Homo sapiens: one gene and its partner. The protein of the gene in region 1 interacts with the protein of each later gene in a biochemical or structural test. Each region holds a gene or a part of one and is shown on either strand. Other genes may lie near its edges.

Region 1 (4,999 bases):
CAAATGGGCCTACAAAGCCTAAAATATTTACTATCTGGCCCTCTACAGGAAAGTGCTGCCAACACCTGGACTAGATTTCCAGTGTTTTTGTCACAGCTCTGGAATTCCTGACTCAAGGTGACTTGTTTCAATAGCAATTAATAATTTGTTGAAGACACTCGACTTAGCAAAGTACAAAAAAAATGCTTAGAAAATAGATAAACTGACATACAAAATTAAGTCAGTTTTCATAAAGCAGATTCTATTTTGTTAAAATCAGTAAGGAGTGTTGAAAAAGCCAAGAACATTATAAATAAATTATTATAAATAATCATACTGAATTTTATAGGACATGTGCTACTATATGTGTTGGTTATGTAAGGTCCTTAATACTGTTTGAAATTGTGTGTGTATGTATTTCTTGAGACAGGGTGTTGCTCTGTCGCACAGGCAGTGGTAAAATCTCAGCTCACTGCAACCTCTGCTGTTGGGCTCAGGCAATCCACCCACCTCCGCCTCCTGAAAAGCTGGGGACACAGGCAAACACTACCACATTTGGCTAATTTTTAAGTTTTTTGTAGAGATAGGGTCTCACTATGTTACCCAGGCTGGTCTCAAACTCCTGGGCTCAACGTTTCCTACTGCCTTGACCTCCCAGAGTCCTGGGATTACAAGCATAAGCCACCGCACCAGCCTGTTTTTAGTATTCTTTCCAAGAGATTTTAGAAGCAGTATGACTGACTGGGTATTACATAAACTCAACAGGTGTTTGTTAGGAATGATACAACTCTCATTACTGCCACAGCAAGTTAGAAATGTTCATCGTATGTCGAAGTTGTCCTCAGAGAACCTTTCAAGAAGTTCAGAGACGCTTGGTGTCCCTAAGCTCTTTGTGTTGCATGTAACTCAAACAGTGGCTGACTTGGGACAGTTCACAGGCTTTCTCTGGTATGCTGGTATTAAGGGGTTTGGTACCCAATTATACTCATAGGAGTGAGACTGGTTTGTCTTACATCTGTCCAAAATCAGTTGACCACTGGCACAGAGCAAATACAGAGTAAGGCCTTGTATACCCCAGCTTATGCACACTATGGCATCAGAAGGCTTATAAAGAAACATTGCTCCCATTTATATTCTGCTGTCAATATAGATGCTTATAAAATTAACACACTTGTATGGCCCAGCGCGGTGGCTCAAGCCTGTAATCCCAGCACTTTGGGAGGCCAAGGCAGGTGGATCACGAGGTCAGGAGATCGAGACCATCCTGGCTAACACGGTGAAACCCTGTCTCTACTAAAAATACAAATAATTAGCTGGGCGTGGTGGCGGGCGCCTGTAGTCCCAGCTGCTCGGGAGGCTGAGACAGGAGAATGGCGTGAACCTAGGAGGCAGAGCTTGCAGTAAGCTGAGATCGCACCACTGCACTCCAGCCTGGGCGACAGAGCAAGACTCCGTCTCAAAAAAAAAAAAAAAAAAAAAAAAAAAAAATTAACACACTTGTAATGAAGCTTCATTAGCCAGTCTGATGAAATATTTTTTAAAGTGTTACCTAGTAGGATAAGTCAATAGAAGTTAAAATCTTCCCAGTAATAAAACAAGATTTTAGGGTAAGTCAGTTTATTGATGTGTTGTGATCCATCACCCAGATATATTAAACACAAAGTACTTAAGTAATTCAGGATTTCCTTTCCAGAAACAAAGCAGGAATAAAAACCACTATGACAATATAAAACCTTTGTACATTTTTAGGTATTTTTCCCTTCAATATTTAAATAAACATGATTTCTTCTGGCATGTATTTAATGTTAAGTGAACATGATTTTAATTAGTCTTTTTTTATCGTTATTTCAGCCATTATAAAAGCCATAAATGTGTTTCCAGAAAAAGTGCTTTTGATATTATTACAGTATTCTCTCATAAAATAGGAGGTACGCTTGTGAGTTTAGTACTTTAGTTGTAGGCACAGCTTGCACATGTGTGTCGCTGATGTGAAACCACTGCCCTTTTGATTCCATTTCAAAATCTGTCATGAGAAAATGAAAAATCAAACATAAATGGAAAGATTCAAGTTGATTACTTTTTGGTTTTGCCGTAATCTGCTGAGTGCCTGAATTTTCCAAGACATCTTACCTTGTGGAATATCACCGTGAAGAACAAGATTAGAGAGATGACTATTTGCGGTTCTTGCCTTGGCATAGGCAGTGTAATGCCCCGACCTCATAGTACCACTGTGTTCAACAACTCCATATAAGGAATAGAGTACCCTTGTATTTTCTTCTGCAACATTCTTTAAAAATGAGTAGAATCCAAAAGTTAGTTCTAGTTCCATTTACACAGATGTCATGGGCAAGACAAGTTTACACTATGCAAAGGGTCTTTAACCATTACTTTGAGAGTGCAGAAATCATTCATGAGTCTACTCTTTTCTCCATACCTCTTCTCAGCCTGAGACACTTCTGTTTTTATTATAAATTCACCATTGTTCCCCTGGTAGAAAAGCTGTAAGCCACAGGCCACTTGATGCAGTTACCTGGCTCAGATACCAAATAACTGAATTCAACTTGCCAGTTTCTTTAGGAGCCTGAGGATAATTCTTAACAACCCTAGCTATTAACAACTCTGAATACCCTGTTTAAAAAAAGGTAAGCCCTGAACAGGAAGAGAACAGTATTTTAGGTTGTGCCAAAAATTACCCCTTACATCTTTAAATGTCCCCAAGGGAGTTGGTGAGAAGCACATTCAACCTCTCAAGTGTTCACTTTCCCCACGAGAGAGTGCACGCTGCTTATTCTTTCAGGACTCTATATGCCATAGGGCTGGCAACAGGAACAGGCATTCTCTGGGCCAGGAGCCACTTTTCAGACAACTATTTATGTTCTCATGTAAAAGTCCGTAACAGGCATCACGGCCCTTCAGTAGTACTGTCTCCTATACTCAGCTTCCCAATCTGTGCCTCCATATTCACTGAAGAACTTAGTACTTCTCCGTCCATCTATGATTCTCACAGGACTTTAAATGCCATTCCATTTTAGTCAACCACACCCAGGACTAGAGTCTGGGCTTGTCATCACTCAGAATTGTTCAACTTCATAAAATTTTTTTTGAGACAGGGTCTCACTCCGTCACCCAGGCTGGAGTGCAGTGGCATGATCTCAGCTCAATGCAACCTCTGCCTCCTGGGCTCAAGTGATCCTCCCGCCTCAGCCTCTGGAATAGCTGGGACTACAGGTGCACACCACCATGACCTGCTAAATTAATTTTTTGTAGAGATGGGGTTTCAGCATGTTGCCTGGGCTGGTCTCAAACTCCTGAGCTGAAGGGACATAAATCTTATTTTTAGTCTTAGTCCACAAGTCTTCTATTTATTCAACTCTCATCTCACCTATTCTGTACTCTTTAACCTAACAGGATCTCCAATGCTCATATTCTCCTCACCTATGAAGACTTTTGGCTTCATTCCTGATATGGTTTGGCTGTGTCCCTACCCAAATCTCATCTTGAGTTGTAGCTCCCACAATTCCCACATGTCATGGGAGGGTACCCGTTGGGACGCAACTGAATCATGGGAGCAGGTCTTTCCCATCCTTATTCTTGATAGTGAATAAGCCTCATGAGAGCTGATGGTTTCTTAAGGGGGAGTTTCCCTCCACAAGCTCTTGCTTTGCCCGCTGCCATCCATGTAAGATGTGACGTGCTCCTCCTTGCCTTCCGCCATGACTGTGAGGCCTCCCCAGCCATGTGGAACTGTAAACCTCTTTCTTTTGTAAATTGCCCAGTCTTGCCCAGTATATCTTGTCCAGTATATCTTTATCAGCAGCATGGAAACTGACATAATATAATTCCCATATGCAGTCTAGACCATTGCTATTCAAAATGTGGTCCATGAACAGCCAGCATCAGCATCACCTGAGAGTTTACATTAAACATGCAGAATTTTTGATCCCATACTAGACCTACAGAATCAAAATTTGTAGGTCTGATTCCCACATACACATTAAAGTTTGGGAACTTCAATCACATGTATCACTTACAAATAATCTCCTCCATATCCAATTCATCACAAAACCTCACCCTGAATCCTATAATGTACCTGCCATGCCCCAAACCCAGATGGCCACTACTGCCAAGAAACAAAAGTATAATAAATGATCATGTACCTTGTCATAGTCCTCAATGTGACCATAATCTTATAAATTGTCCTTAGCGGCCTCTTCCATTATGCCCATCACAGCAACTGGCCCAGACTTTTTTTTTTTTTTGAGGGAGTTTCTTGCTCTGTCACCTAGGCAGGAGTGCAGTGACGCAATCTCGGCTCACTGCAGCTCTGCCTCCCAGGTTCCAGCAATTCTCCTGCCTCAGCCTCCCGAGTAGCTGGGATTACAGGCGCACACCACCATGCCTGGCTAATTTTTGTATTTTCAGTAGAGACAGGGTTTCACCATGCTGGCCAGGCTGGTCTCGAACTCCTCACCTCAAGTGATCCACCCGCCTCGGCCTCCCAAAGTGTTGGCATTACAGGCGTAAGCCACCACGCCCAGCCCCAAATTCTTCAACATGGAGATTCTTTGAGATCCTTTGTGGTGTCCTCACTTTCTACCCCTGCCTCTTCCACTCAGATACTTAGGAGGGTCCTGTCATTGGCCATCTCCTTTTTCTCTCTTCAGACTCTATACACAAGGGATCCCATCTTCTCATAGTTTAAACTGCCACATATGTACTGATTTCTAAATCTGTGCCCTGGGCCCATCCTAACCTCTCTGCTATAGGTCTCAGATATGTATATCCAAATGTTTTCTAGACTAAGCACATTAATTTCTCAAAGGTATCTGACACTCAAATGTATCTAAAACTGAAGTCATTATCCTTTCTCTACCTGCTTTTCTCAACCTGCTTTTCTCCCTATATATCCTATCTCAATTTACAGCACTCCCATCTGTCGTGCCAGGCCTCAGGAATCATCCTCAACCCTTTCTCTGCCACCCTCAGCATCCACTTATAAAAGGCCTCTGCCTCACCTTAC
Region 2 (3,438 bases), on another chromosome or scaffold:
TCGCAGATAAGGAAACACAGACCTGTAGATATGCCATTATACCATCTCCAATCTTTAGTGTTACCTTTCATTTACCCAATTCCTGCCATGCAATCCTAAACAACCCTCCACAATATAACCCCAAATGACTTACATTAATAAGCTCTACATTCTCTTACAACAAACTGGCTTCCACCAAAGACCACAGAACAGGACAACCAAACCACCAATCTTAAAAGGTCTCGCTGCTGAAGAAAGTGACACACTTTCTTCTAGAGTGCAAAATTTCCAAGACAAGATGGATTAGATAGATCCCTCATTACACATCCAATTGAGTGTAAAAATCGGTAACCCAGGAATGCACATTCTAGCCTGTTAACGAGGAGGAAAAATAGAGGAGATATAGTTGGAAAAAGGATAGAAGTACACTAAAAAAGTAATAAAACTATTGTACACTTCTCTTGATTGCAGCAAATAATTCAAATTAGGCTGCTTATAGGTAAGAATCACAATGAGCAGCATTATTTGTTAAACAGTTTAATTCCCAAAGCTAGTAATTTTAGTTAAATATACATTAGAGCCTTTTTAGATGGCTGCTAATAAACACTATGTCAAAATGTGTAGTTTTAAACTCAGACTCGAAAGCCAAGATAAGCAACTCCTTCAGTTATTACTCTGACCAAGGCATAAGAATTCACTTAGACAAAAAGCTTTCAAAACCTACCTAAAAATAAGATAGTTCATAAATTTTCAAAACTGTTCTTCCCTGTTGCGGACAGCCCTTGATCTTTGTAAGACTTAGCAAATTTTGGCATGCTCTCATGTTAGCTTTTTAAGTTACTGAAAACTCCTATAAATTTAGCATCATTTCTCAAATCTGTATAGTTTTCTCATTCCGAATGCTTAAACATTTAGGTCAAAAATTAAAATACCAGTAGAAAAATATTCATCTTTAGCCAGGTTGTATAGTTAACAACATGGCAAGAAACTGATGAGAACATTTAAACATTCAGAGCATAAAAATACTTCAAAGCATTACGAAACTTGAACTTAGCATTTTCCTAAATTTTAGTAGTTCCAACTACAGGAAAATAAAACTGCCATAAGGACTGAGATGATTTAAGCCAACTCAAATTTTTTCCTGATTCCTGACATCAATATTATAGTTTTATTATAGTAACAAATAGTTGTTACAGTGAGACCTACACACATTTACAGAATTATATTTAAATTCATATAGAATATTTACATTTTTAAGTTATATTTTTGAAATTAGAAGACGAAGTACAGCTGAAGTTTGATAACAAAGAAATATATATAAGACAAAAATAGACAAGAGTTAACAATAAAAACACAACTATCTGTTGATATAACATATGGAAACTTTTTGTCAGAAAGCTACATCTTCTTAATCTGATTGTCCAAATCATTAAAATATGGATGATTCAGTGCCATTTTGCCAGAAATTCGTTTGGCTGGATCATAGATTAACATTTTCTGGGAGAAAAAAGAAAAAGAGATATTTATTTAGGAAATAAACCATTTTTTACAAAAATCTCCATAAAACCTCAACTTTTCTAGCAATAAACCAAAACTAATACTTTCAGTGAATATCTATTAAATGAGCATTTCCATTAGTTTAACACACAAATGTCTCCTCCCCTACATTTCACTCTTGAGGTCTAGAATAACTTACTCTGTAAATCATAGATATTCTCAATAACCTCTTTTTGTTATCAATTACGGTAAGACTCAAGCATCCAGAAATAGCTTTAAAACTGAGACACAAATATAGGAAAGACGTCTAGTTAATTATATTTACATTGAGAATTAAACGGCCACCTGAGTTATTTACAACATTCTTGAAATGGCAATTAACTATGGCAGTTTCTGATGTAGCTTCCAGCAAGTTCCAAAACCCCCCATAGCACAATGTGTTATAAAAATAGCTAAAAATGAGTCACTAAATGAATTATAGTCACACAACTTAGTATGTTAGTTTACGCGCCAGAAAAAGCTAAATAAAGTTTAGGATTGATGTTAAATTTGATCTTTAAGAAATACTAAAATAAAATAAAATCAACAAGCACACTAGAGATTTTTTACTAACTAGTTACCATCTGAACTCTCATGTAACCAGCACCATACAAACTGCTTTGTATAAATCATGGTACTCAATTCCCACAGCTAAAAGTAGGTATTAATGTCATTTTACAAATGAGGACATTGAGGCTCGAAGGGAAGTAACTTGCCCAAGTTCCCAGAGCTAAGGAATAAAGCTCAAATTTGAAACCAAGTTTAATTTACAATAATGGTTCGCAACTGGGATAGACTTTGCCCATCAGGAGACATTTGGCAATATCTGGAGACACTTTTGGTTGTCCTAACTGTGAAGAGTATACTAATGGCATCTAGAGAGTAGAAGACAGTGATGACATGCCACTAAACAAGTTATGATGCACAGAACAATGCCAGCAACAAAGATTTATCCACTCCAAGATATGTCAATTGTGGCTAGACTAAGGAATCTGATTTATAGTATTTGATTTGGGGGAAATCTAAGCTTAATTTTGTGGCATAAGGAGTCTTTACACTCTGAAAGTAACCCGAAGACCAATGAGAAAATGTATACAATGGTATAGCAATAGATCCTTCTGATGGAGAAACTAGGTACAAAGTGCGAATAAAGCTTATTCAGAAGATGGCTTTAATAATTTAAAATATCAACCAATAAGAAAAACACGTCTAGCATAAACTAAGAGGGCTCAATAGTGACAAAAATGCTAGAAAGGAGAGCCACTACAATTCAGCAACTTAAAAAAAAAAATGTGTATTAATCCTGGCTTCTCCCTCAGAATATCCATAGCTACCTGTCAGATAAAAAACAAAAACTAATGCTAAATCCTCCTCTCAAAGCCACTAGTGCCTCCTGATATCTAAAATGAAGCTAGTATAATACAATGTACATAACAGACACCTAGCTCAAAAATGTTAGTGTTCTTCCTATTTTCTAGGCAAAACAAAGAACTGAATATATTCAGAATCATCAATAATTTGAAAGTCAGTATCAAGGGCACTCCTTACCGAGAGCAAATCCAAGCCATTTTCATCCAAGTTTTTGACATGGGATGCTAGGCTTCCTGGTTTCCATTTGGGAAATGTATTCTTATAGTCCTGTAAAGATTCCACTTCTGGCCACACTTCATTATTGGGAGTGCCCAAAGCTCTAAAAAACAGGAAATTAAAAATTTCTTAAAGCATAAATGTAATCTCATTGTTACATATATGTTACCTTTATTATCTCAGTTTTTAATAGCTACCTGAAAATCCTGAAGAGTTGATCAATTTCTGAATCCCCATGGAAAAGTGGTTTCTTAGTTGCTAGTTCAGCAAATATGGTGCCTATACTCCAAATGTCAACTGGAGTTGAGTAACGAGCTGACCCCAGCAATACTTCTG

The links. The genes of interacting proteins can lie anywhere in the genome.
Region 2: of the proteins of USP16 (region 1) and CDK1, one has a biochemical effect on the other in vitro, tested with the Homo sapiens proteins (3 studies listed by BioGRID).

The regions. Positions count from the first base shown.
Region 1 is NC_000021.9:29,051,069-29,056,067, reverse strand, and holds the end of USP16 (ubiquitin carboxyl-terminal hydrolase 16), read right to left. Parts: intron 2,267-4,999; coding exon 2,110-2,266; intron 2,003-2,109; coding exon 1,881-2,002; 3' UTR 1,580-1,880; downstream 1-1,579. UniProt on the Homo sapiens protein: Specifically deubiquitinates 'Lys-120' of histone H2A (H2AK119Ub), a specific tag for epigenetic transcriptional repression, thereby acting as a coactivator.
Region 2 is NC_000010.11:60,791,915-60,795,352, reverse strand, and holds the end of CDK1 (cyclin-dependent kinase 1), read right to left. Parts: coding exon 3,300-3,438; intron 3,206-3,299; coding exon 3,064-3,205; intron 1,477-3,063; coding exon 1,378-1,476; 3' UTR 501-1,377; downstream 1-500. UniProt on the Homo sapiens protein: Plays a key role in the control of the eukaryotic cell cycle by modulating the centrosome cycle as well as mitotic onset; promotes G2-M transition via association with multiple interphase cyclins.